Linked DNA regions of Homo sapiens. The protein of the gene in region 1 interacts with the protein of each later gene in a biochemical or structural test. Each region holds a gene or a part of one and is shown in the gene's direction. Other genes may lie near its edges.

Region 1 (4,090 bases):
ATCTGGGTATTCCACAAACACTCTAGAATCATAATTCTCTCTTCAGATTGTTTCAAGTTCTCATAAATAAAAAGTAGTTCTTTCATATTTCCCATTTATTTCCTGTCTGTAGTGTTCAGTACAGAAGTGTTTTGCTCTAATGTGCCGAGTTGTTTTTAATTATACGCCATGCTGGGTTTCAGACGGTGGAGAACTGCGTGTGCACCCTGAGGAACCTGTCCTATCGGCTGGAGCTGGAGGTGCCCCAGGCCCGGTTACTGGGACTGAACGAATTGGATGACTTACTAGGAAAAGAGTCTCCCAGCAAAGACTCTGAGCCAAGTTGCTGGGGGAAGAAGAAGAAAAAGAAAAAGAGGACTCCGCAAGAAGATCAAGTTAGCATTTTATTTTATATGAGACTCTCAAGTTTAATTTTTCTGGGAGTGAGGAATCACATATTTGGCAAGAAAATAAATTTTCTGCATAGCTATAGCTGAGTCCCGCAAAGGTGAATGTTTTCAAGTATTGGAGATCATGTTCATTCTGCCTCCATTTAACGTGTGCTGTTTGTCTTTCAGTGGGATGGAGTTGGTCCTATCCCAGGACTGTCGAAGTCCCCCAAAGGGGTTGAGATGCTGTGGCACCCATCGGTGGTAAAACCATATCTGACTCTTCTAGCAGAAAGTTCCAACCCAGCCACCTTGGAAGGCTCTGCAGGGTCTCTCCAGAACCTCTCTGCTGGCAACTGGAAGGTAGGATGACTTCCACTTATCTACACTTCTTTCCATCTTTGCAAACTAACTTGAAATGTTATATATATATGTTCTGCCTCAGTCAGATCAGCCCTGATGGTGAAAGGGTCACAGCTACTTAGCTTGTGTGTGAAGGGGTTAAAGGGAAAAAAGGGAGACAAGCAGTTGCTCTGGGGATACAAAGATAAATACAAGTCCCTCACTATGAGAAACAGAAGGCTAGTGAGAAAAACAGATGGTGCCAGCACAGTGTAGAAGCCACAGGATGTATGTGCTGTGGGGTCCTGAAAGAAGACATCTAACCCAGCCACACAGTGTAAGGGAAGGTCAGGAAAAGAGCGGAGTAAGGACGTGGAGGAGATTTCCTGAAGGGGATGCTGCCCGGCAGAATCTCTGAAGATGAGTGAAAGTAAGCCTGTAGAGGCTGAGGCTGTGGTATGGAAGGAGCCATCCAGATAACAGGGACAACAGGAGGAGGACAGTCTTGTGGTGCAGAGAAGACGTGTGGGCCAGGACTACTGGCTGCCCACTGGGGCCCACCATGGAGCCAGGCATCATGGATAGGCCTGAAGGCCAAACTTCAGGAGCTGAATCCTAACCTACACACAGGAGGGACTACCGAAAGAGTCTGGGCAGATGAGTGACAGAGACGGGCTAATATCATCACTGCTCCCCCACTTCCATGGCAGTGCAAAAGGTGGATTCGAGGAAGGGAGAGTTAGAAGCAGGGATTGGATTTGGGAGCCAGTGCAGCAATACAAAGGTGAGAAATCTTGAGTGGCAGGACAGAACACAGGTTGGGCAGCACTGTGGGGAGGGATAGAGGACCTCTGTTCCTCTCAGACCGTTACAGACATGCCTGTGTCTAAGGTTTCTGCATCTTTTTGCAAATGTATGAGTATGAAAACTGAAGACAGTTTCCTTTTGTTACCACTGTAAGCAAGTTCTCAGAACTTTCTAAATGTCCCCCAGCAACTTCCCAGACAGTCCTTGTCTGAGACATTTTCAACCTCTAGTAATTTCTTGACAGGTGTATTTTAGTAGAGTTACTACAATGCTTGCTGTGGGCTTCTTCCCCCACCTTAACCCCCCAAAATGAGAATCTTTTGGTGATGGTGTTTTCAAGATAGTGAAAAGCATTGATAAGCCTAGGTATGGTTTGTTTCGTGCACGTGGCCACTATGTTGAATATAGAGCGATAACTATGGTCTAGTGCTAAGCCGGTGTGGTTATTTTGTTGTGGCTCCTAGTTAAAGTGCCAGTGACTGAGTGTGTAAGTGCTGGCTCTGAATCCAGGCCACTCTGCTTACCGTCTGGCAGCCTAGGGGCTCTGCCCACAGTTTCCACCTCCCTAAAATAAAGTGAATATTAATACCTGCCTTATAAAGTGGTTATGAGGATTTAGTGAGATACTCCCAGCACATAAGTATTTATAAACATTTATGTTGTAGAACAGCGTTCACCTTCAGCTTCTGTGACCAGAGGATCATTTGATGATAATAAAAGACAGTAATTGAAATCGATGTGATTTGACTTATTTAGAAGTTCATGTCTGGGATCATTTAGTGAGAGAGTTAGATGGCAAAGCTCATTTAAAATATAAACATTATATCTAAGCGATTTCAATAGTGAGTTAAAATATTGGACCTTCACTAAGAAAATGAGATAATCGTGGCCACAGATGTTATCAAGTAAGAAGCTATTTCAGGAGCAGTGATGACTGTAGTTCTCCAGAAGGGAGACGGGCTGGGCTGGGCTGGGCTGGTAGGTCTCCAAGTGAGACAGAAGGAGATGGTTCTGTTGTTGCAGGTTTCAGAGAGAAGTTCATAAAACTGCCTGAGTGCTTTGCCTAGTAACCAGTCATGTACTTCATTTTCCCCCCATAGATTTCATGTGATTTGAAAAATAGGAGTATGCATTTCATATGCAGAATATAAATAGGATCTTTGAAATGCATCTTTCCCTCTTATTTGTATTATTAAAATATTCTGTTGGTATTCAAGAAACTGGATGGTCAATCACATATTTTAATGTTCGAAATAATACAAAGGGCTGGTAGATCTCTGTCCTACTGTCTTGGTCACAGCAGGAAAGTATATGTTTTATGAGCAGCATCTTTCAATTACCCTAAAATTTGAAAGATGATTTGCATTGGTTGAAAAAGTCAATTAAAGCTCAAAGCTGGAAACAAGATTAAAGAACCGTTTTCTAACGTTACTCTTTTTGGTTGTTTCACTGATGACTTAGCGCTCATTTCCATTTTATAAGATATACAAACTGACTCACAGTACAGAGTTGCTTCATAGTCACAGAAAAATTTCTTGACTATGGATTTTTAAAAAACAGCATCAGCAGCTAACTAATCTTGAGTGAGAATGCATTTTGCACACAAATATACTTACTTTTTCACCAGGCTGTATGAATTATGATGCTGGATGTTTCTGGAGATTTCCCTTTCTTCTGAGGCAAGGGATTTTTCCAACTAATCTCTTTGACAGGTTTCTGAACTCGAAATATTGTTGCAGGGAATATAGAAAAAAAATGACTTGATGGAGACAGGTTCTCCTTTCATGTGTGCTGATGGGTTACTGTCTCTGCCATCCTATTTATAGCCTCTGGGTTTGGCAGGGGACCAACTGCAAAGAAAACACACGATCCTTCCTTAATCATGTTTATGTATCTGAGATAGAAAGTAATCACTGCCTTCTCTTTTCTGCACAAAAATATCTGGCAGATGGTGGTTTGAGATTTTCAGGCTTTGGGATTTCTTTTTAAATCAGTCATTCCAGCCTATCTTTCTCCCCAACTTTGGTTTTCTCTTCACTGACACCACAGATTTGATCTTCAATTGGAAAGAAACCATTTAATCTATTAGTTCATCTTTTGGAAACATCTTTTTTAGGTGACAGTAACATATGAGACTGGAACTCTGTTTTATGTTACTTCCTGCCTTATTTTTCTCACTAGTTTGCAGCATATATCCGGGCGGCCGTCCGAAAAGAAAAGGGGCTCCCCATCCTTGTGGAGCTTCTGAGAATGGATAACGATAGAGTTGTTTCTTCCGTGGCAACAGCCTTGAGGAATATGGCACTAGATGTTCGCAACAAGGAGCTCATAGGTATGTTCTGGTGACAAGATGAGCTGTAAATGTGAGAGCAGCTACAAAATTCATGAAACTCTTCTTTTGATTAATAAATATATGGCTTGTAAAATCATTAACAGCTGAGCCCTAGTCTCCAGTTTCTTGGCATATTTGAGTACTCCTGTTTTGTGACCATTCTTTTTCAGCAGGAGGCAAGCTCATTAATTAGTCATTGATTAGGGAAGGTAAATTTTCAGAAAGGCCAGCAATTTTAGTT
Region 2 (4,090 bases), on another chromosome or scaffold:
AAAAAAGACTAGCAATTATATTGGATTCATTCCACTAAGTCTTCATATATTATAATCATAAGGAAGATTAAAATGATATTTCACTGTGGACTAATGAATTTATTGGTTTCAAAATTGTTGTATTGTATATTTGCAGCCCTCACTTGTTTAATGGTAGCCACTGTATAAAACCTAGATTCCTTTATTCAAAATATAAAGAAATTCTCATAACACCTGCAAGTTTTTGTTCACACTGATACTGCCAAAATAGTAATGATCTGATGCTGTTTTAATATAAGAAAGTCTGATACGGTTGAAAGAGGAAAGATTTTGAAGGGAGATAGAGATGAGTTGCTGTATCAAATCTGCAACAAATTAGCTGTGTGGTCATCGGTATGTTCCCACCTCTGTGACTCAGTGTCTTTGTGTGTAGAGTGCCCAAATAAGAAGTTAGGAGAATTAACCGAGCTCATGGATATAAAATGGTTAGCATTACATTTGGCCCATGGTGATTTCTCATTAAATATATACCAGAATTATGGTAATTTACTCCAACAAATATTTATTGAATGTTTTACAAGAGCCTTTACTCAGTGCTATCCAAGTCTGTTTTTACAGCTTACCAATCATTGCACGTACGAAGAAAAGGTATAGCTTAATTCCTTAGATCAGGATTTCTCAATCTCAGCCCTATTGACATTTTGGCAGATAATTCTTTGTTCTGTGAGGCTTCACTGTGCATTGTAGGAATTTAGCAGCATCCTTGGCCACCACATGCTAGATGCAGTAGCATCCCATTTATGACAACCAAAAATGCCTCCAGACATTGCCAAATGTCTCCTGAAGGGCAACATTGTCCCCAGTTGAGAACTACAGCCCTTGATCAATTCTATGTAAACAGTGTTCACGAACTGCTCATCTTAGGAGATTTTCCCCAAAAGATCCATGGTCAAATAAGATGAGAAACATCAAATGCCAGCAACAGCATAACAATGATAGCTAACTTTTGGAAACATACTAAACATGGCAAATTGTTCTTATCTTATTTAATCCTCATAACAGACCTAGAAGTTACTTACTATTTTAAGGCACATTTTTAAAATGAGGAAATTGAGGATCAGAGAAATCAAGTGACTGACAAACATCATACAATTAAATGGTACAGCTACGGTTTGCTTCCAAGCCATCTTCAGAGTCTGTGAAATTATCTACTACACAGTATTGCTCCTTGAATATACCACTTTCTAATTCAAAATCAATTTGGGGTCTTAAGGCTAATTATTCTTAATTTGTGATATTTATTAGGTACAGGTATTTATCTCCAGCACTTACAAAATCACCTTTTGTTTTATTCAATTGATGACAATATTCCAATTATTTGCTAAATGATTGTCTTCATAAACATCCTTGGATGCAGGCAAAGTCACTTTCCCTGGCAATGTTAACCAAAATAACTTCAAACAAATTCAGATGACCAGGAACTGTGGAGAGACTCACTCTGCTTGAGGGAGGCAGAAAACATTTAATAGAGGAGACAATATTTGAATTTGACCTTTTATCATCATATTAAATTTGGATGAATAAGAGTCTGCCAGGTGGAAGGGCATTCCTAGCAGAGTAAACGGCATGTGCAGAGACCTAGGTAACTTGGAGAGTTCAATATGTTTGAGGAATGGTGGGGGTGGAGAAAAGAAAACAGGAAAATAAAACTAGAGAGAAGGCTGAGTTCTGCATTATTATCTGTGGCTTGACTCCTGTAGGTATTTGCCCTTATCACCTTTGCAGTAAGGGCAGCAGACAGCCAAGAGCACAGCAGGGACATGGTCAGGTAGGTACTTGATGATCACCAAAGTGTATATGGTTTGATGGCAGGGAGACCCAATTAAGTCACTAATGCAATGCTTGCAGCAAGAGATAATGAGCTAGGGTGGAATGAAGGGTCAGATTTGAGAGAGTTTATTACAAGAGAAGCAGGGCAGGGAAAATCCTCCTCTGAAATGGGCTATTAGAGCAAATAGTATAATTTATTTTTGGAAAGGCTGTCTCTATGAAACAAAATAATGCATTTCCAAGGAAATAATCTGGAAGTACGTTTAGCAGCTGTTCAGGTAACCTGGAGAATTTGCAGTAACATATCTCAGATTCCATAAATGATCTTCTGGAAACTTGTTCCTGTCTCCATTCAGATTTCCCATAGAAATTGAACACCTCATAATTGTTAAGTGGAGATTCAGAGCTAAAAGTTAGATTCTGAATTGCACTGTTGCCTTTTTAGTACAGACTACTTTGTCAATTTCCTTCTAACCATGTCACCTGGGAAAGATGAGTCAGCGTTAGTGGAGATTCAACCAAATGTATTTGAGAAATTATGAGCCAGTCAAAAATGCAGGGAAGAGATTAGTCCCAGACACTCAACAAATAGTTGTTGAATGGGTGAATTAATCAAATGTTGGATTCACTTATTTAATTTTTGAGTTAAGCATGTAAAATAAGATTAATATAAAGGAAGAAAAAAACCTTTCAACCTTCGATTGCAGTTTTTCCCTTTCCTTTTTTACTGAAATAGCTAATGGATCACTCCCCAAAAATACTCTAGCCTAGTACCAAATGGACTTTTATTGCTATGCATTATGCAATAAATTTTTACGTATACTATTTAAATCCAAAATGAACATATAGTCCAACACATTTAACCTTGTTACTTTTTTCCAAACATCTTCCTCAAGGCATCCTTTAAGTTTTTTTTTTTCTGTACTTTAGTTTAAGCAATTTATTTTACCATAGATACAAAGATTTTATAATCCCATCCCTGGAAGTTTATAAGAAACAATTTTTTTCTACTACATTTTAATGATTTCTGTAATTGTATCTAAAATCACAATGAGTAATAATATCTGCTGTTTAAGGAGTGCTATCAGGTACATTCCCAAACATCAGACCTATGTTATTTTGCAATAGAGAATTTTTTTCCTACAGTGAAAATATAATTTTCTTTCTGCAATAAAAGAATTATTATTCTTCATGTTCTTACACATTCTTCTTTTTATGTGAACATTTTAGGTGTATCAATATATGCATGAAACGATAACTGTTAATGGCTGTCCCGAATTCCGTGCGAGGGCAACAGCAAAGGTAAGGCTTGAGTAACTTTAAAAATATACTTGACCCCAGTTATCTAGTAATTGATTGTGCGCGTGTGTGTTTCAGGTATTCTCGTGTGTACACTGTAAGAGAATTTAGACATCAGTGGCAGCCCAGAGTCTAGAACCAGTACTACTTCTCAGGTAAAAATCCTAATGGAAAATTGAACGTTTCTGCTGCTTCTGTAGCTTAAGAAAGGAGAATGATTTCATTAAACTCACTTAATGTCCATTTGGCACAAGCAAATCTACTGGTTCATTGTGTGAAATACTATATGATTTTCAGACACATTCTTCTGATCTGAAAGAACCTGTATCATATTCAGTGCATGAAGATTTATTTGCACCGGTCTAAAGATTTGATTTCAAATAGACAGGAAAAGAATTCACCTGACACCCACTGATCTAGGATACTTCTGTGTATTCAGCTGAGCAGTGGGTAACTTGCTGAAAGGATGTGGCATAGACCTTATAGAAAACGCCTGTCACCTTTTGTGGTAGTGACCACATCTGCCCTTTAAAGACTCAAATCCAGAGACTGTAGAGACCCTACTAATGGAAATGTTATACCGATAACATCAGGAAATTATCAGGAAAATAGGCCATTAGGAAATACCAATTTTAAACTAAAATCACTGATGCAGCTCTTCTTTTACAAACACACAAATGTTATAATAGAAACATGACTTGCTTTTAAAAATACTTTATTTTTCTAATAATGTATAAGAAATAACCATTGAAAATGAGTAGAATTTTCCATTTAATTATTTTGTGTTACATCAACGCTTGTTTAGTTTCTCTCTTGATTTTTTAGTTTTTACTCTGTAACTGAACACTGTAGATTTGTAAGGTTTTTTTGTTTTGTTTTGTTTTGTTTAAACTCAGGGAAAAAAAGAGGGTGTTATTATCATCATGTCATGCTTTGCTTGTACTGAAGTGGAACACACACAGAAAAATGATCCCTACGTGGT
Region 3 (4,225 bases), on another chromosome or scaffold:
TTGGTGTGGGAGCAAATCACTTTTTGTTTGGTCGAGCCTCAGATGAAGTTAGGAGGCTTGCATTTATGGGCCATGCTGTATGCAAAATGTTTGTCTTTAAATGCTGGCCCAATAGAAACAGAGACAGATTGAGAGGATGAAAGATTTAGTTCTCCCACTCATGTGCACTTCAAGGCTTACACTTATCGGTTGGAAAGTTGGTCTTTGCAGAATGTTTAAGGTTATCTTTCTCTTTCTCTTTTTGCCTAGCACATATCATTAAACTCATGTAAGTAAAATGCACGTAAGTTCAACAAGCATCACTTTGTGAAAGTGATGGTATAAATCTTGATGGTCATTTATTTAAGAAAGCAAAATAAAGCAGGACTCCTGGAAATGAACCTAAAGTTATGATATACCTTCTGGGGAAGGGCACTGCCTGGAATAGCAAAAGATAATTAGGAGGCCAGAGATCTCACTCAACTGCAGGGGCCAGGCCAGGTGTGATGTCAGAGTAGTTAGGGAGGGATGCAGTTGCCAGGTGAGGGAGATGTCATGCCTGCTCTTGGGTTGGAGTGTGGCTGAGGGGAGTGAGGGAGGCAGCAGAGCCTGGGCTGGATCCTGGGTGCTGCCTCTAGCAGGATTCTCTTTACACCTTACAGGCTCCCAGGGCTATCCTTGGGTATCCCCAGATACCCAGGGGTATCTGTCCACACTACTGTGACAAATCCTAAGTATTGTACTTCAGCTCAGATTTATCATCTGAGCTTCAAATCTGGCAGTCCGTTGAACTTGTTTACTTTGATGTCTTAGAGATACTGTAAATCCAACCTGCCAAAACTAAATGCAGTTGTCAGGAGCAGAGACCTGGGGCTCCCAGCTGTGTCATCAGGGCTAATGGAGACCTCAATATGGGGCCTGATGTTGGAGAACTGGAGACATGAAGGGACACAAACCCCAAACTTTGTTGTGAGTTTAACCGTAAGTAAATAGGACAATTATAATACCTTCATATTTCAAGCCTGAAATGCCCAATCTGCTTCTATGAATTTCCTCCTGAAAGGCAGAGATGAATTTGGTGGCCCAAGTCTTTAAAGGACAGCTGTCCAGAAAAGTTGGGCACAGTGTCTTTTCTCAGTAAACATTCTGTAGCAAGCAGAGCCTTCAGAATGGTTTCACTGACTTCAGAGCTGAACTGGGATTCCTCTTAAAAATACCCACTGAAGAGTTTCAGGACTTGGTGGGGACCCTGGTTCTGGGGTCCTGCTGGTTTGTATGGGAGACATGGCTGGCCAGGAAGCCCACGTGAAATCTCCAGATTCTCCTCTAGTTATCATCTGTCTATAAAAGCCTCCTTCTGTTGGACAGCTTGGTGGGCAGAGAGTGAGGGCAGGAAGAAGCTGAGATCATTACACAGAATCAGGGGGTGAGCAGAGAGCCCCGTGTACTCCGACAGCATCAGGGTCTTGCTGAAAGTCCTGCTACATTAGCCATGAGCTGGCCGGCCTTGAACCCTGGGTGAAGAACTCCACCTCTTTACCCATCATGTCCACATGCAAAACATGAGGCTTGCTGTGAAAGAATGTCTCTATCTTAATGAAATTCTCCAAATTTCCAAGTCTTGCCCTTTCCGTGAAATAGGCATACAGGCTTCTGGTGCCTCTTTATTCCCTATTCACCCTTTCCCTATGTCCACAGTTGAGCCCCAGGTCAAATCTCCAAGGGCAGCCTGATGGCACGTGCAAAAGGATAGAAGGAAAGGCAGTCGTTCTCCCAACTTGTGGTGGGATGATGGCCAAGATTTCACCCTTGGGACCACCAAGTCCCCCTGGACAAGTGGGGAGCAAATCGCTTTTTCTTTGGTTGAACCTCAGATGAAGCCTTGCCTCTTGCCTCTCAGGCTGATGGCTTCCCTAGGTCTCTGTCCAGGCAGAGCCAGTAGCTGGAGCTCCGAATCAAAACCAGAGGGCAAGGAGCTTATTAGAAGAGGTGGAGGGAGTCTACGGGTGGGAGGTGAGGTGTGGACACTGAGGCAGCTGCAGTGGCCAATGGACACACACAGCTGCCATCTTCCACTCCTCAACAAGGCTTAGTGAGCTCAGAACGGAGGGAAGGGGGTGCTGCTTGAGGTGGTGGGGACAGTGGTGAGCCTAGGCCTGGGCAATAGGCTAGATTTCCCATTCTTTGATAAAACTTCTTGAATGTTTCTTTCCCATGTTTATAAGAAAACACAGTTTCTACATGATTTAGCCAAGCTTAAAGTCAATTTTCCCTGCAAATGCTCAAGAATTAAAAATGTCTTTTGACAGTGAGTGTTCCTCTTCAGTCTTTGTAGAATAATTTCTTTTTTATACACTTGAGTGTGCATATATTTACATGAAATTCACTATTTCACATACCTTGTAGCTCTCATGAGTGGAAATAATGTCTCTTTCACAGTGAAGCTCAGTTTGGGACAGATGCTTCCGGCTCTACTGGGGAGGAGGACGTGCTCTCTGGGTATCTAAGGGTTTGTAGCTATTGGGGTGCACCAGAGCCAATTTTAAGAGAAAGAGGCAATGCAGGAAAGGAGAAGGAGAGCAGCAGCACATAATAAAGCCAACCCATTGATTTGGGTGGGGGTAAGGAGGCTGAGAAATGAGGATCCATGTATTTGCTAAATCTTTGTGCTTTTCTCTTAGATATTCCTTCTCATCTCCTCTAACCAGACTTTCGACAGATATTTTCTGAGCACCTTCTCTGCATGTCTGCAGTGCTGTGTAAAATGCCCTACCTTTGCATGGACTATTCTTTCTAATCAAGAGGCGTGTGTGGCGAACTTGGGGCAGCCCCTGGAAGTCTTGTTCTTTGACCATTACGTCTGCGGCTGCATCACCAGATAATGAGCTTCACCACTCGTCTGCCTCCTGTGTCCTTCCGCGGGGAGTAAATGTCACTTCAGCTTGCCGCATCTCTAAATAGGCAAATTTTCAGTGCTCAGAAAAGGACCTGATCTTTGCACAAAGTGCTTTGATGGTTGCCTGCTTGAGTCACTCCCAATCCCTTCCTGAAGCCCTTTCTTTATAATTCTTCTGTTGAAATAGCCATCATATTCACAGTACTAATCACAGCATCTCACATTTACTAAAAACTTACCCCATACCAGGAACCCAGAGTTGGGGGGGCTGTGTCAGAATTATGTAATTTACGTGTCCCAATAATCCTAGACGCTTCTTGACCATCTAGTTTTGTCAAATGAGAAAACTGAGGTTCCAAAGAAGTCAATAAACTTGTCCAAAGTCTGACCGACTCTGCTTGCCATGTGACGAGTCTGTCTTAGAACTGGGTCATTGCCCTGCTTGCAATGCTGTGCCCTCTGGCAAGCCCCCCCATCCCCCCGGTCTCCTGAGCTCGGTAAGGTGCTCCAGCTGCTTCTATCATAGCACTTCCTACATGGACTGTAACATTTCTTTACTGCTCCAACTTCTCATTAAATTGGGGGCTCCTCAAAGCCAGGGTTGGTGCCTTATAAGTTTCTTGCTTCCTGGTGCCCAGAGCAGCCTCTGGCATGAGCTGTTTGAACACTGGCTGAGTCTCACGGGCCTGTGTCGTGCAGAGTATTCTAAAAGGCAAGGGGAAGGTGGGGTGAGGAATTTTTTTTATCAAGGCTGGAAGAAACATGGGCTTCTGTATTCTAGTCCTGAATTGGATGGGGAGGATGGGGAAGGTGACATGTACCATCCATGTGGAGCCCCTTCTCCCACCTCGGAGGATGAAGAGTATCTTACCATCAACTCTACATGCCAAGGCCAGCTACCCTGTGAAGAATGTTTGGAGGCAGATTCTGGGACCATTCCCTTGCCACAGTTCTGCTCTTGGGGCACTGTCCCAGAGTCTTTGCCTCCAGAAGAGTCCCCAGAGAGTGGGAGTGAATGGGAAGACCTGGAGGAGCCTGTGGCCCTGGAATACGGTGCCCTCAGGTGGGTATCACTCTGGCTGGGTGGACTGGGGCTGAGCTCTGACCAGAGCAGGGCTCAGTGCTATCAAGCCACTTCAACTGGGGGTGGGGGATGGTCTGTGGGCATTGCCCAGTTTCCCCTGCATCTTCTTTGGGGGTCATGCGTCATTGTAATGGCCATTTTCACAGAACACTTACCATGGCCCTTGCACCATGACAACGACCTACAACATGGGGACTGTCATCACCCCCATTTCACACATGACACATTTGGGGCTTTCCCAAGGTTATCCAATAAGTAAGTGACAG
Region 4 (4,090 bases), on another chromosome or scaffold:
CCAGGCGCAGTGGCTCACGCCTGTAATCCCAGCACTTTGGGAGGCCGAGGCAAGCAGATCACTTGAGGTCAGGAGTTTGAGACTAGCCTGGCCAACATGGTGAAACCCTGTCTCTACTAAAAATACAAAAATTAGCTGGGCCTGGTGGCAGGTACCTGTAGTCCCAGCTACTCGGGAGACTGAGGCACGAGAATCACTTGAACCCTGGAGGCAGAGGTTGCAGTGAGCCAAGATCGTACCACTGCACCCCAGCCTCAGCAACAGAGGGAGACTCCATCTCAAATAAATAAATAAATAATCTTTCTGCCAGGTGTGATGGCCCAAGCCTGTAATCCCAGCACCTTGGGAAGCTGAGGTGGGTGGATCATGAAGTCAGGAGTTTGAGGCCAGCCTGACCAACAGGGTGAAACCCTGTCTCTACTAAAAATACAAAAATTAGCCGAGCATGGTGGTGGACTCCTGTAATCCCAGCTACTCAGGAGGCTGAGGCAGGAGACTTGCTTGAACCTGGGAGGCAGAGGTTGCAGTGAGTGGAGATTGCGCCACTGCACTCCAGCCTGGGCAACAGAGTGAGACTCCATCTCAAATAAATAAATAAATATCTTTCTTTACTACATTTATTCATAGTTTTCTATCTGCAAACACGAAGAAGGCCATACTAACTCTATAAAGAAAAATTTCCAGTCCTTGAGTGTAACGAAATCAGGAACTTCTACTTAAGTCAAAAGGAAGCAAAGCAATAATAGAATACTGGGCATTGTAGTACCAGGGGTACAAAAACAGTATACCAAAACAGTTTTTGGAAAAATAAAAGTAGAGATAGTTAACAGTGTTATAGCTGACTTCCTGAATCTTCTAAAATGTCTCAATTCATAAAACACTTATCCTCACACTTCTCAGTGAGAATTCCCTAATGTGCTTCATACATTTGTATAAATGTATACAACCTCTTAGGGTTTTTTTTGTTTGTTTGTTTGTTTTTGTTTTGTTTGGTTTTTTGTAGATGGAGTTTCACTCTTGTCACCCAGGCTGGAGTGCAGTGGCACAATCTCAGCTCACTGCAACCTCCACCTCCTGGGATCAAGCGCTTCTCCTGCCTCGGCCTCCCAAGTAGCTGGGATTACAGGCACCCGCCACCATGCCTGGCTAATTTTTGTATTTTTTTTAGTAGAGTTGGGGTTTCACCATGTTGGCCAGGCTGGTCTTGAACTCTTGACCTCAGGTGATCCACCCGCCTCGGCCTCCCAAAGTGCTGGGATTACAGGCATAAGCCACTATTCCCAGCCAATATTTCTTATGATTAATTGGTACCAATGTAACATAACACTTTTGCTTGCTAAGCCCTTTTTTATGTATTTTGTGGTTCAGTTGTTAACTGAACTCATAACTCTTCCTCATAACCCTTATATGGAAGGTACTGTTATTTCCATTGTACAGTGAAAGAAACTGAGACATAAGGACATCATGTAACTTGCCCAAGGTCACACAGGTGGTATTGAGACCAGATTGATAAAGCTAATTGTTTTTATTTTTCTTTTTTGTAAACATAAGTGTTGGAGCTTGTTTGAATTAACAGTGTTAATTAAGTTGAAAAAAAATCAGTTTATTTCATTTGTACTGCTTGTTTTTTGCATTTTTATGGTTGTTTTAAATGTGTCCCTGCCACTAACTGCATCTGCTCTCGAGTGGTTATCTACCTATGTATCATGTTTCTTTCGAGGAATGACCAGTGATTTTACTAGCTTATAGTGCCTTGTACTGTTCAGTGCTTTGGTTACTAATAATAATTAGGTAAATTTTTATTGACTAGTTTCTGACAATATTGCTAGCTTTTCTGAAGCAGTACAATGTTCATGTATCGGTCACATTTGAGTCACAGTCCTTTCCGATGACATTTGGTATTTTGTGTTCAATTTGCCTGTGTTTCTCCAAGGTCTTATTTTATGCTTCTGTAATCTCAGTAGTTTTTCCTATCTACTGTAAAATTTAGTGTTCTTACATTTTACATTCTCACCCTCCATGTGTGTACACACACACAGTCTCCTTCCCACCAAATGTGCAAATTCAATGCTTTTTTTCCCCTCGATTGTCTGTATATTATTTGCCCTTGAGGAATGAATCCTAACTGCCCCACTGTTACATAGGCATTGAGAAAACCCTTGGAGAAAATTATCTGTGTGTGTGTTTAACTCTAGATATTTGTAGAGCAATTGAATTATTGGAAAAACTACAAAGGAGTGGAGAAGTACCACCACAGAAACTTCAGGCTTTGCAAAGAGTCCTTCAAAGTGAATTCTGCAATGCTGTGAGAGAGGTGAGTAAACATCATTAAAATTTACAAAAATTTGAGTTAATTAGGTCAGATAATACTCTAAATTTGGGTTCAACATTTCTTAAGAAAAACTTTAGAAAACATTAAAACCAGTCCCTCTCATTTTTGGAATTTCTGATAAAACCATTTTATAAAGATGCATAACTTTGCCTGAAATTTTAACTTCACAGAGAACTCAAGCATGGTATATTCTGAGATATAACTTTGGCTTTTACAGGTATATGAACATGTCTATGAGACTGTGGACATCAGTAGCAGTCCTGAAGTGAGAGCGAACGCTACTGCAAAGGTAAATTTTTTTGTTTTCCAAAAGTAAGAATTCTTCATAAATTAGAAGTTTAAAATATGGAGTTATTAAATTCATAATAAACTTACTTTGAAGACTAACATGTATCTTTCAAGCTACACCAAATTTCTCAAGTACTAAGAAATAAGACATTTGTTTCTATTGCCTTTACATAAATGCTGCATGATAAATAGCTTACATAAGCTATTTTATCATGCAGTTTAGATAATGCAATAGAAATGTACTTGCATACAATATGTATCATGCAATATATAATTGTGTTGTATATGTTATATATATGATACTATATAATATTCATTATACAAAATCTAATCAGAATTTTAAGATATGAATTACTATCCTCATCTTATTGATGAGGAAGCATGAGGTGATTTGCCGCAAACCACACAAATAGCATATGATAGAGCTGGGGTACTTCCCCGAGTTGATTTTTGCTTTCTTCTTTACATTATCTGCATTTCTGTGCCATTGTTTTCCTCAAATAATTTAGGTATTGACCTCACTATTCATGATAGGGGGTTTGAACAGGGTAATATCAGCAGTCGGTGACTTAAATTAATCATCAGCAGATAGTTTTTTATGGATAGTTACTGGCTCACAAAAGGAAATGGTGGATTCTTTGTTGAATACAAATACTTAAACATGTGGATATAGTTTATCAGTGTAGAAAAGACCAGAGAAACATGGTTTTAATTGCTGAGTTGTGTGAGTTTGATAGCCTACTGAATTTCTGAGCCTTAATTCCATTATCTGAAAAATGAGGCCTTTTTCAGAGCTTCGAAGATAACGGGTATTCAGTAAATCTTGATTTCTTCAAAGATAACGGGTGTTCAGTAAATCTTGATTTCTTTCCTCCTCCCCATTTTTGTGATCCATCACAAAAAAATGGTACTAGATAATTACCCTTTAAAGCAAAGTGAAACAAAATCTCAACTTTATAATTAGTTTGGATTAGTCTAAAGTTGAGCTTTAAAGAAGATACGGCTCTGTTTCATCTTCTGTGGGGATTTTTAGTTGTGTCTAGTTAACTAAAGCAACAAAACATTCAGATTGGCTATATGTACCTCTCTTTTTCTCAATATTGAGTTATTTCTTGACATCTTAGATATTTAGTATATAGTACAAATAGTACAGAAGCCAAAATGATTACATATAAGGGCAACTCCATGTTGATTATATAGGTAGGTTGTGTCCTGCACAAAGGCTCCTGAAGGAGTTGGGAGATCCAGATCTAAAGCCCAGGGCTGCTAGCATGCTGGGGAAGGGGTTTTCCTCCTTACCATGTACAATATCAGTCTGCCCAGTAAGTCTGCTTGCCAAGCCCTGCGCATACAGGACTGCACAAAAGAGTGGGCACTGAATGGGCTAGGAATGACCTAAAAAATCATAACAAAAAATCGTAACATTTCCTGCATAACTCGAAATTATTCATTTGTCGTCTCTAAAATACC
Region 5 (4,090 bases), on another chromosome or scaffold:
GGCATGGTGGCTCACGCCTGTAATCCCAGCACTTTGGGAGGCCGAGGTGGGTGGATCACCTGAGGTCAGGAGTTCGAGACCAGCCTGGCCAACATGGTGAAAAAACCCCATCTCTTCTAAAAATACAAAAAATTAGCTGGGCATGGTGGTGCAGCCTGTAATCCCAGCTACTCAGGAGGCTGAGACAGGAGAATCGCTTGAACCCGGGAGGTGGAGGTTGCAGTGAGCCGAGACTGCGCCACTGTACACCAACCTGGTCAACAAGAGCGAAACTCCGTCTCAAAAAAAAAAAAAAAAAGGATGACTGTGGGGGTATAGCTTAGATTGGAGGTGAAGGAAGGCCTCTTTGAGAAGAAGGGTTGTTTACACAGACACTTGGAAGATGAGAAGTTAATCAGGCAGAGGTAAAGGCAGGTGTGAAAGTCCTGAGGCCCTGTAGCTGGAGCCCAGTGGGGAAGAGGCATGATGTGGGTGGGGAGGGAGGCACTGGCTTTAGCGGCCTTGTTAAAGATTTTGGATTTCATCCTAAGGGGACTGCTCTTTGAAACTGCTAGATTTAGCTATGATAAATGAGTTCCATAAGGCATTATTCTCCTTGATTCAGGCTGCTCTCCTTGGAGTTAGAGTTTGTCAGTCAAGAACGCTTGCCAATCCCAAATAAAATGATGCTTAGAGCCGTTTAAAAACTGAGCCTGCGTTGTCCTTTAGTAACAGTGAAGTGTGTATGAAGATGCACCAGATCAGTCTTCTCAGGACAACAGGTCAGAAAACGGAGGAATTTTTTTTTATTGCATGCACTGGATGACTCAGAAGCTAACTCTCATTGTTGACTGAAATGAGAGCGGCCTGTGCTTGCCTGGATAAAAAGTCCTGTCCCAGTGGCTGGATGAGGGGACGATCTGAACCTTGAATCAGGAGGCTGCTTTCGTTTCCTAAAACCCAGATCTCTGGTAAACAAATGATGGGAGAGCCAGAAAGGAAGGTTAGGAGGTCAGGATCTCGGTACTGGTTTCCACATCCTGCCACATTCCAGGAGAGTTTTGCCTGATAAAGTCATAGCATGTGCGGGCCAGAAGGGACCTCAAGGATCAACTTGTCCTCATTTTTTGGGGTCAGGGTGCTGATGGGGAATGCACCATAATAGCGGCACCACACTAGCTGCGCTGAGGGCTAATCGGAAACTGTAGCTGCTGAAAACTGCATCAGATACTGAGGTTTAGGACCCAACTTGTGTGTCCTGGTTTGGTGCCTTGAAGAACCTGTTACCTGTGGTTCAGCCATAAGGAGACACCCAGGTGTTCATAAGATCTTCCTCAACTGGATCCCGAGAGTCAAGGGCCTTCTCCAAAGGGTGGCCAGAGCCCTGTGGGCACTGGGAGCCTGGGGGTGTTACTGCCACCTTGATCCTGCGGACTTGGAATTCCCATCCAGGAAGGTCTTGTAATGTGGAAAAAAAAAGTTGTGAACTTACCCTGGGATGATGACAGTAATATTTTTAGTATACCTTAGTTTAGAAAATCTAACCAGATACCTTGGTTAGAGATAGTACTCTGAGGTGAGTACTATTTCAAAATGAGTTTGGATCTTGTTCATTCTAATAGCATCTGTATTCACTTGAAAAATGGTTGTACATCAGTGTAGGAGATGTGATATGTATTGAGTCCGCATGTATTGCTCTGTAGGCAGGTGAATTTAAGGACCTATTGCAGTAATTGATTGGCTTCCCCCAAGCATCAATGATCTGTCAATTTGGAACCACTGGTTTTAGAAGCATCAGTCTGCAGAAAACCAGCCGTCTATAGGGAATGACCCTAGTCATTTTGGGAGATTAAACCAGTATAAACCTATACTACCATACTTTAGGATATCCTTGATTGCTTTTAACAATTTTTTTTTAAATTTTTATTTTATTATTATTATTATTTTTTGAGACGAAATCTCACTCTGTTGCCCAGGCTGGAGTACAGAGGCATGATCTTGGCTCACTGCAACCTCCACCTTCTGGGTTCAAGTGATCCTCCTGCCTCAGCCTCCTGAATAGCTGAGATCACACCCGGCTAATTTTTTTGTATTTTTGTTAGAGACAGGGTTTCACCATGCTGGCCAGGCTGGTCTCAAACTCGTGGCCTCAGGTGATCCGCCTGCCTTGGCCTCCCAAAGTGCTGGGATTACAGGCATGAGCCACCATGCCTGGTCAACAATTTTTTAAATTAAAAAGTAATTCAATATTATTGTAAAAAACATTGCAAAACTGTATAACTGTGAACAATTTAGTGTGCAGTGTTTCCACTTTCTTTTGTATATATAACATTATTAAGATTTTTAAAGAAATAGGGTATTATAGTATATAATGTTCTCTAAATGTGTGTGTGTGTGTTTTTTTAAATGTAATTGTTAACTAATTTTAAGGAAGCAAACGTGGTTCAGTGGGAAGGACATCAGATCTGTTCGGGGTTTGTTTCCTGGCTCAGTAATACACTAGTTGGAGGACCAGTAATATAATAATATACTAGTTGGGTGATCCTGGGTAAGTCATAGGTCTTTCTAAGCCTCAGATCCTGGTCTTGGAAATGGGGACTGCTATTTGTCCTCCTTTCTCATAAGGTTGCTATAGGGATACAATGAGATCATATTAGAAAAGCCCTCTTTGTCAATGATAATATAAATGATTGTTATTATTTAAGCTATGATTTCAGCCCTCTTTTCTTTTTCAGGGCTTTGCTCCATATCAGTGAATACTTAACTTGGTGGTAACTTAGTGGTTTGGAGACAAATAGTAACTAGCCTGCTTTCCCCTTTTTTTCTAGGTCACTCCTGGAAGCAAGGCGGCTCTAGCTAATTTATGTATTGGAGATGTAATCACAGCCATTGATGGGGAAAATACTAGCAATATGACACACTTGGAAGCTCAGAACAGAATCAAAGGCTGCACAGACAACTTGACTCTCACTGTAGCCAGGTGAAGCCTATGGAAACGTTTTGTTCATTTCTGATTGACTAGAAGCTGTTTGTGGGCAGGGACTGCCTTCCCTATCTCAGAATCCCCCAGACCTCCTAGCTCAGTGCCATGTATATACTATAGGCATGCCAAAAGGTCTGTGGAATTTGAACTTCAGATTGCTTATTTCCCCTCTATTTTTTTTTTTTTTTTTTTTGAGACGGAGTCTCACTCTGTTGCCCAGGCTGGAGTGCAGTGGTGCAATCTCAGCTCACTGCAACCTCTGCCTCCCGGGTTCAAGTGACTCTCCTGCCTTAGCCTCCTGAGTAGCTGGGATTACAGATGTGCACCACCACACCCAGCAAATTTTTGTATTTTTAGTAGAGATGGGGTTTCACCATGTTGGCCAGGCTGGCCTCGAACTCCTGACCTCAGGTGATCCACCTGCCTTGGCCTCCCAAAGTGCTAGGATTACAGGTGTGAGCCACCGTGCCCAGCCCCCCTCTGATTTTCACGGTGCTTATGATGTGGGCTTCTTTCAGTAAGATACTTGCATTTTCACTTGATCCAACTCAACCAAAATTTTGAGTAAGTAAAATGTCCTGGCCAGGTGCGGTGGCTCTCTTTGTAATCCCAGCACTTTGGGAGGCCGAGGCAGACAAATCACTTGAGGTCTGGAGTTTGAGACCAGCCTGGCCAACATGGTGAAACCCTATCTCCACTAAAAATTAAAAAATTAGCCAGGTGTGGTAGCGTGCACCTGTAGTTCCAGCTACTCGGGAGGCCGAGGCAGGAGAATCACTTGAACCCAGGAGGCAGAGTTTGCAGTGAGCTGAGATGGCGTCACTGCACTCCAGCCTGGGCGACAGAGCGAAACTCCATCTCAAAAAAAAAAATGTCCTTAGGATGCTGCTGCTACTGCATTGTGCTGAGCAGTGGGTACCATGCCAGGAGATTGCAATAACAGAGAAAAACTTGAACACATTAGCAGCAGAGTACTGAGTGTAACTTTAGGTACATGACAAGCAAGGAGCGCTGGGGATAAAAGAATGAATGAGGGTAGCACCTTGGGAGCTGTAATTAGGGTAGAATTTCCATTCTTCTTTCATTTAGCCTTGGAAGGGGTCCCGCAAAGGCAGGATTTCGGAAGTG
Region 6 (3,898 bases), on another chromosome or scaffold:
CTATAATCCCAGCATTTTAGGAGACTGAGGTGGAAGCATCACTTGAGCTCAGGAGCTCAAGATTAGCCTGGGCAACATAGCAAGAGCCTGTCTCTACCAAAAAAAAAAAAAGTTTTAATTTAGCCAGGTGTGATGCACACCTGTAGTCCCGGCTACTTAGGAGGCTGAGGTGGGAAGATGGCTTGAGTGCAGGAGATCAAGGCTGCAGTGAGCTATGATCAAGCTACTGCCTCCAGAAAAAAAAAAAGGAAAGAAAAAAAGAAAAAAGAAAGAAACTCACGTGGTTGCCAGACATGCCAACACCACCACCAGGATCATGAGCACACGACCACATCCCACCTGGCTGGTGGGCTCCCAGTGTACTCTTTCTTGCACACACACAGGCCTGCAGTGCCATGTGTGGCTGCCACCTGTCTGTTCAGCGTGCCCTCCGAATGCCCACAAACCCCTGCACTCAGCATGCAGGTCATGTGGATGGAAGGTGTGCCGAAGCCTGTGTTCTACCCTGTTCTAGGCATCCTGCACCTGCTATGAAAGCCGCTGCAGGTGCAGTGGTTCACTCTTGTAATCCCAGCACTTTGGTAGGCTGAGGTGGGTGGATCACTTGAGGTCAGGAGTTCCAAGTCCAGCTTGGGCAACACAACAAGACCCCCATATATTCAAAATATTTAAAAATCAGCCAGGGGTGGCCGTGCGCGGTGACTCACGTCTGTAATCCCAGCACTTTGTGGAGCTGAGGCAGGCCAATCACGTGAGGTCAGGAGTTCGAGACAAGCCTGGCCAACATGGGGAAACCTCATCTGTACTAAAAATACAAAAATAAGCCAGGTGTGGTGGTACGCAGTTGTAATTCCAACTACTCGGGAGGCTGAGGCAGGAGAATTGCTTGAACCTGGGAGACGGAGGTTGCAGTGAGCTGAGATCGCACCACTACACTCCAACCTGGGCAACACGGTGAGACTCCATCTCAAAGAAAAAAAAAATAAAAAATTAGCCAGGCGTGGTGGTATGCACCTGTAGTCCCAGCTACTTGGGAGGATGAGGTGGGAGGAGCACTTGAGCTCAGGAGTTGGAGACCAGCCTGGGCAACATAGCAAAAAAATTTGAAATTAGCTGGGTGTGGTGGCACACACCTGTAATCCCAGCTGCAGGGGAGGCTCAGGCAGGAGGATCTGTTGAGCCTGGGATTCAAGGCTGCACTGAGCCTTGATTGCACTCCAGCCTGGGGGACAGAGTGAGACCTGTCACAAAAAAAAAAAAAAAAAAGAAGAAAAGAAAAAAAGGCAGGTGTGGTGGCTCACATCTGTAATCCCAGCACTTTCAGAGGCTGAGGCAGGTGGATCACCTGAGGTTAGGAGTTGAAGACCAGCCTGTCCAATATGGTGAAACCCCATCTCTGCTTAAAAAAAAAAAATACAAAAATTTAGCCAGGCATGGTGGTGCATGCCTGTGGTCCCAGCTACTTGGGAAGCTGAGGCTCGAGAATCATTTGAACCTGGGAGGTGGAGGTTGCAGTGAGCTGAGATTGTGCCACTGCACTCCAACCTGGATGAGAAAGCCAGACTCTGAATAAATAAAGAGAGAAAGAGAGAAAGAGACAGAGAGAGAGAAAAGAGAGAAAGAGAGAAAGTGAGAGAAGGAAGAGAAGGAAGGAAAGGAAAGGAAGGAAAGGGAAGGGGCCGCTGCAGAGTTGCTGGTCCTTGTGTGCCCATGAGCTGCAGTCCCAGGGACCCACAATTTGCTAGGGTTTTAGCGAGAAGCTCAGGATCCATGCTGGACCACACATGCCTTACATATCTGCGTAGGCTCAAAAAACTTCTATTTTGGCCGGGAGCAGTGGCTCACACCTGTAATCCCAGCACTTTGGGAGGCCGAGGCAGGCGGATCACCTGAGGTCAGGAACTTGAGACCAGCCTAGCCCACATGTTGAAACCATATCTCTACTAAAAATACAAAAATTAGCCAGGCATGGTGACGGACACCTGTAATCCCAGCTACTTGGGAGGCTGAGGCAGGAGAATCGCTTGAACCTGGGAGGTGGAGGTTGCAGTGAGCTGAGATTGCACCACTGCACTCCCACCTGGGCAACAAGAGCAAAACTCAGTCTCAAAAAAAAAACACTTCTATTTTGCCCATAATCCTCTCTGGGCAGCAGTGACTTGGCCTGGGGCAAGCACAGGGCGTTGAGACTCTGGAAGCTGTTGTCATGAGATCTCTGCTAGGCCCCTGAGTTCAGGCTAGCTGCATTCTGGTGCTGCATTCTGGTGCTGCTCCTGGCACCTGGTTTCTTGCCCTGGGGCTTCCCCTCAAGAGCTGTTCTGGAGGCAAGCAGGGCAGGCCCCGTAGCTTGGGGTCTGCATATTGGTGCAGATGACATCTGCCCTCCCCTCCCTGTTTTGGAGGTCCCTTGTCTGGCTGAGAGGGCAAGAGGGCCCCATGTTCCCTGCATGTCCCACAGCAGAGCCGGAGCCTGAGCTGGACCTGGAGTCCGAGCCCACGCCTGAGCCCCAGCCGCGGAGCTCCCTGCGGGCTTCCTCCATGTGCCGCCGCAGCCTCCGGTCCCAGGGCCTGGAGGCCGGCCTCAGCTGCGGTAAGGCTGGTGTCAGGGGGAGGGTATGAATGGAGCTCAGTTTTCCCACCTGCAAAATGGGCTTGGTGAGGTGGGGAATCCCAGGGAATGGGGCTAAGCAGGGCTCAGGATTGGCCCTCCTGGGTCTGCGGGGCATGTTGGTTCTGGGCCGGGGCCTGAGCCGTAGAGCTCAGATACGGTAATGACATTATTCCCCGGTAGGTCCCAGCGAGTGCCCTGAGATGCCTCTTCCCCTGATCCCAGGCGAGCGCCAGGCAGGCGACGGCACGTCCCTCCCTGAGACCCCCAACCCCAAGATGGTGAGACCTTCTCTGCCCTCCACGTGGGGTCAGTAGGGGGCAGGGAATGGACGGTCCATAGGACTGGGCCCAGGAGACCCAGGCCAAGGCGTCCCTGTGCTGCTTCAGGCTGGGGCATATCCCTGCCTCCCGGCCCACCCAGGCCTGGACCACATTAGGGCTACGAGGGGAAGCAGAATGGGCTGGACTCTCCCCCGTCTCCCTCCAGATGTCAGCCGTCTATGCAGAGCTTGAGTCTCGACTGAACAGCAGCTTCAAAGGGAAGATGGGGACCGTGTCCAAATCCCGGGCTTCCCCTCCAGGCCCCAGCCCAGCAGTCACCACAGGTAGGGCTCCAGCCTCTGTCATCTACTGTCTGGGTGTTTCCCTCCACCCCAGGCTCAGCCCTGGAGCTGCTTCTCTGCTCCATCAGGGTCAGGGTTGTCCCAGTCCCTCCCATGGCCCTGTGACCCTCACCTCAGCTGTGGATCAAGAAAGTAGCCTGGGTACCGTGGGTCGTGCCTGTAATCCCAGCACTTTGGGAGGCCGAGGCAGGAGGATCAATGGAGCCCAGGAGTTTGAGACCAGCCTGGCAACATAGTGAGGCCCCATCTCTAACAAAAAAAATACAAAATTAGCTGGGCATGGTTGCATATGCCTGTAGTCCCAACTCCTCAAGAGGCTGAGGCGGGAGGATCACTTGAGCCCAGGAGTTCAAGGCTGCAGTGAGCTATTTCGAACCACTGCACTCTAGCCTATAAGCAACAGAGTAAGACCCTGTCTTAAAAAAGAAAAAGAAAGAAGGCAGATGCCTGATTCTGAGGAAGTCCCCGAGTTAGCAAGTGGTTATTGGATAAATGATCAAGTGCAACGCGTTGTACCAGCGTTGGCACAGCTGGGAAGACAGTTGCTCTGCAGCTCAGAAGGCAGGAGCCCTGGGAGGCCCTCCTGTGATCTCAGGGCTTGCTGGGTGCGCGAGACGCTCCATGACTGTGGCTCTGGGCCCTAGAGAAACCCCTCCACCCTTTGA
Region 7 (4,090 bases), on another chromosome or scaffold:
CCGTCTCTACTAAAAATACAAAAATTAGCCAGGTGTGGTAACGCAGACCTGTAATCCCAGCTACTCGAATCAGGAGAATCACTTGAACCCAGGAGTCAGAGGTTGCAGTGAGCCGAGATCGCACTCTAGCCTGGGTGACAGAGTGAGACTCTGTCTAAAAAAAAGAAAAAAGAATATCTGCATTCAGTTTTTATTGTATGTTATAATAGTAATGCCACCTTATCTGGCTAGCATTTTATGGAAATCTAGTGTTTCACACAAGCAGATTTCTTAAGTAACTAAATGTGTGTATACTCAAGACTGAAATCCTAGATAATTAGATTTATTTATATTGGAATAGAATCTGAGAAAAATAAATCTGAGAGAGTCTCTTACATGTATATCTTTATTGCCATCTACTTAAATTCGGATCACTTGCTCAAGTTGGGTGGCTACTGGAGTAATATTCAAGTAAGCACAGTATTAATGTACTGTACATACTTTAATATAGTAGTTTGTGATGTCTCCTAACTTTTTATATTATTGATTTTTTATCTTTTCCCAGGGCCTTTTAAATTCCTTTTGTTTAGTTAGGACTATACATTGTATTTTTCACTGGTTGAAGAACTTGAGTACCTAAGTAATTTGGTAACCTCCCATAATCCACTGGTACTGTTCTTAAGATTCAGGTAATTCATGAAGTTAGATTGAAAAACATTTTTTTATTAAAATAGAATTTTAAGACAAATGGTGGTAGAGTGGGTGTTTACACTGTTTAATACTAACAGTTAAATGATAGGTCCACATATATTTGCTTACTTGAGTTGCCTGAAATTCAGTTAGAACATTCTTCAAGAAATAAACATTTTTTAATACCATTGGTTAAATCAATTATTTTTAAAGGCTTTTTGTAGCAGTCGAACCCTTTCTGTGAAGAACATATTCAGAAATCTTGTTTCTCCAGTTCATAAAACAAGCAAAAAGTAGAGCTGCTTTGGCAAAATTTACTTTGCTGTCAAGAAAATTCACCAATGTTAAGTTCTCAGGTTGGTCTTTCAGTCAGTGTGAAACAATGCCTTTTGCTAATCGGGTATATTGGTTAAACATGTCAGGGACTGATGGCAGCTATCACTTAGCAGCCACAATTTGGTCATTTAAAAATAAGCTGATGTCAAGTTAGCAGAAGAAAAGCACCATCGCCACCCCCTTTTTTAAAGGCTAAAACAGTATATGGGTTTTGCCTACTCAGAAATAACAGCGGGAAGATCACTTCAGCATTTGTCTCTTAGGAGAGATGTGCCCTACCAAACATGGCTGAGGTGCAGTCTAAAAGAAACAGACTTACAGTGACACCTCTGCAGATGGGTGACTAATCCAACGACAAGTTGCACATACTTTTAAAGAAAGAACTGTGGAGTATACTTCAAAAGTCCTTGGTGTATTTTCTTGAACCTCACCTGTTCAGCAGTAATGCCTCTGAAAGGACTTTCCTCCAGAACAAGTCCATTTAATTTAGAATCTTTATATTACTCACCCATATACCTTTATTTGTTGTGTTCCTTATGTTAGTACAGTTTCTGCGTCCTTTAATGACAGGAACCTGTCCATAAAGATAAATCATATTCAGTCTCAATTTTTTTTCTTCTATCCTCAGGGAAATTCAGGGCTTGGTTTCAGCATTGCAGGAGGTACGGACAACCCACACATTGGAGATGACTCAAGTATTTTCATTACCAAAATTATCACAGGGGGAGCAGCCGCCCAAGATGGAAGATTGCGGTATGTTTTGCGCTTTTTATTGTGATGCTGAATCCACTTTGTGTATTTTTCTTGAAGCAGACTGGATAAGGGATAAATACAAATAACAAACACGATCATGATAACTAGCATAGGGTAGATGCTTTAACAACATTCAAGTCAATGAATGAGATAATTATGCTCTAAGCATTGTGTTCCTGTTTTCATTTAGACTCCAGTTTTATCTTAGATATTATAACATTTTGAATAACAAATTTGGTTGATGGTTTAAATCTTTGTGAGCATATTTATAGAAATCATGAGTTTCCCTTTGTGTTTTCAGATACACTCACAGAATATTTTCCATTTCCTCTCTGGCTGGGAAACATGTGTATAAACTTATTTAAGTACACTCACAGAATATTTTCCATTTCCTCTCTGGCTGGGAAACATGTATATAAACTTATTTAAGATACGGAGGATAGAGGATCACACATCCATGTTGAATCCCACACCACAAAGACTATATGCAAACTTTAAATAATATATTTTCTTATTGACTAGATGAAAATAACATTTGTCTCTGTTTAAATTTAGTGTTCCATTTTGGAAGATATATTTTGCAAACTTTGATTTTTTGAGGGTCATAAATTATGTCATTTTTCCTATTTCCTTGTTTGTTGTTCAAATACCCTGAAGTTTTAGGACTAAAGAGTTTATGTAGTCTGTTAAAAACAGCATCTTATTTTAAGGACGTTGATGCCTTACGCAGTTTTTGAATTTCTAAGCTTTATAATTCTCACTGGGTATGACAGGTGGTATATTAATGAAATCAAATAGATATAAAAATTAATCATTTGACCATTCATGTAAATGTAGACATTTACTTCCTGATTCTGTTAGATATAGAAGCTTGTCAGGACCAGTTTTAATATTTTAATTATGTTTTGTTTACCCTCTCTACCCAATTTGAGATGACCATCTTTTTTTCCTGGTGGAATACCATGCAATCAAAGAGACCAGAACTAGGGAAAAGGCTAAGACTAGGAACAAATCAGACTTTTAAAAAACATAACACCATGGCAAATTATAAGTTCTTTACCTACGAAACCTTTGAATTAAGTGACCTAATCTTTATATAAATTTCAAAAAATAACTTAATTGTTTTATGTCTAATATATAGGTTGGAATAGGCACTCAGAAAATTATTTTTACTTTATCTCAGTTTTCACACTATCTCTGTGACCTTAAACTCGTGATGTGAGCCTCAGTTTTCTTATCTTTGAATCACAGCTCTGTCACTTATTATCTGGGTGGCCTTAGGAAAGTTATTTACATTCTTTGTGCCTCAGTTTCTCCATCTGTGAAATAGGGATTAAAATATATATTAAGCTTACAGGTGTCATGAGGGTTAAAATACCAAGAAAGTGCCTGGCATGTGGTTAGTGCTAAATAAATGTTTGCTATTTTTATAAAGTGTGTCTTAATGCCTACACAGAATAAGCATGCAGGAAGTATGCAAATGGTAGCTGTAATTATTATTTAACATTTTTATATAATCTATTATTTTCACTATTTCTTTTGTTCCTTTTGCTGGCCCTTGGGAAATGTTTGTATTTGTTTATATTAGTTTTTGATATACTTTCTTCATTTATGTTTTCTGGAATTACTCCAGAATTATTTATAATTCTCTTTACCTTAAAAAAGAAGTAACAAAAAATTGGTAAAGTGGAAAATTTATATTTAAATTATATTTAATTTTTATTTTTAATATTTAATTGTTTTCTCAGGGTCAATGACTGTATATTACGAGTAAATGAAGTAGATGTTCGTGATGTAACACATAGCAAAGCAGTTGAAGCGTTGAAAGAAGCAGGGTCTATTGTACGCTTGTATGTAAAAAGAAGGAAACCAGTGTCAGAAAAAATAATGGAAATAAAGCTCATTAAAGGTCCTAAAGGTATGTGGTAAGTCAAACTAAGATAAATCTTTAAGAAATCTCTGAGTTAAATATACCTATGAACTTTATCTGTGACATACATTCCAAGTACAGTATTAGTAATATTCTACAGAACTTGAGTGGATTTTAATTTCTCCGTTATTTCTACTGATTTTTGTCTTACGTAGCATTTTAGAATATTTACATTTCTACCAAGATTGCAGCATTTGAAAAGTTCCTTTTTTTGCGGGGTTTTTTTGTTTGTTTTTTTGAGGCAGGGTTTTGCCCTGTCACCCTGGCTGGAGTCCAGTGGTGCAGTCATGGCTTACTGCAGCCTCAGCCTCCTGAGCTCAAGCGATCCTCCCACCTCACCCTCCCAAGTAGCTTGGACTGCATGCACACACCACCACACTGGGCTGATTTTTTTTATTTTTT

The links.
Region 2: the proteins of PKP4 (region 1) and LIN7A interact in a test that uses a peptide from one of them, tested with the Homo sapiens proteins (one large-scale study listed by IntAct).
Region 3: the proteins of PKP4 (region 1) and FRMPD2 interact in a test that uses a peptide from one of them, tested with the Homo sapiens proteins (one large-scale study listed by IntAct).
Region 4: the proteins of PKP4 (region 1) and LIN7C interact in a test that uses a peptide from one of them, tested with the Homo sapiens proteins (one large-scale study listed by IntAct).
Region 5: the proteins of PKP4 (region 1) and PDLIM1 interact in a test that uses a peptide from one of them, tested with the Homo sapiens proteins (one large-scale study listed by IntAct).
Region 6: the proteins of PKP4 (region 1) and GRID2IP interact in a test that uses a peptide from one of them, tested with the Homo sapiens proteins (one large-scale study listed by IntAct).
Region 7: the proteins of PKP4 (region 1) and DLG1 interact in a test that uses a peptide from one of them, tested with the Homo sapiens proteins (2 studies listed by IntAct, with this or other methods).

What each region holds. Positions count from the first base shown.
Region 1 is NC_000002.12:158,662,715-158,666,804, forward strand, and holds part of PKP4 (plakophilin-4), read left to right. Parts: intron 1-182; coding exon 183-374; intron 375-557; coding exon 558-731; intron 732-3,133; exon of another isoform or gene 3,134-3,367; intron 3,368-3,698; coding exon 3,699-3,849; coding exon of another isoform or gene 3,850-3,863; exon of another isoform or gene 3,864-3,950; intron 3,951-4,090. UniProt on the Homo sapiens protein: Plays a role as a regulator of Rho activity during cytokinesis. May play a role in junctional plaques.
Region 2 is NC_000012.12:80,847,272-80,851,361, reverse strand, and holds part of LIN7A (protein lin-7 homolog A), read left to right. Parts: intron 1-3,039; coding exon 3,040-3,111; intron 3,112-3,186; exon of another isoform or gene 3,187-3,263; intron 3,264-4,090. UniProt on the Homo sapiens protein: Plays a role in establishing and maintaining the asymmetric distribution of channels and receptors at the plasma membrane of polarized cells.
Region 3 is NC_000010.11:48,155,806-48,160,030, reverse strand, and holds the end of FRMPD2 (FERM and PDZ domain-containing protein 2), read left to right. Parts: intron 1-2,660; coding exon 2,661-2,709; 3' UTR 2,710-3,469; downstream 3,470-4,225.
Region 4 is NC_000011.10:27,500,026-27,504,115, reverse strand, and holds part of LIN7C (protein lin-7 homolog C), read left to right. Parts: intron 1-2,195; coding exon 2,196-2,314; intron 2,315-2,549; coding exon 2,550-2,621; intron 2,622-4,090. UniProt on the Homo sapiens protein: Plays a role in establishing and maintaining the asymmetric distribution of channels and receptors at the plasma membrane of polarized cells.
Region 5 is NC_000010.11:95,270,502-95,274,591, reverse strand, and holds part of PDLIM1 (PDZ and LIM domain protein 1), read left to right. Parts: intron 1-2,807; coding exon 2,808-2,959; intron 2,960-4,090. UniProt on the Homo sapiens protein: Cytoskeletal protein that may act as an adapter that brings other proteins (like kinases) to the cytoskeleton. Involved in assembly, disassembly and directioning of stress fibers in fibroblasts.
Region 6 is NC_000007.14:6,509,600-6,513,497, reverse strand, and holds part of GRID2IP (delphilin), read left to right. Parts: intron 1-2,458; coding exon 2,459-2,590; intron 2,591-2,791; coding exon 2,792-2,889; intron 2,890-3,097; coding exon 3,098-3,215; intron 3,216-3,345; exon of another isoform or gene 3,346-3,482; intron 3,483-3,898.
Region 7 is NC_000003.12:197,137,808-197,141,897, reverse strand, and holds part of DLG1 (disks large homolog 1), read left to right. Parts: intron 1-1,633; coding exon 1,634-1,758; intron 1,759-3,506; coding exon 3,507-3,676; intron 3,677-4,090. UniProt on the Homo sapiens protein: Essential multidomain scaffolding protein required for normal development. Recruits channels, receptors and signaling molecules to discrete plasma membrane domains in polarized cells.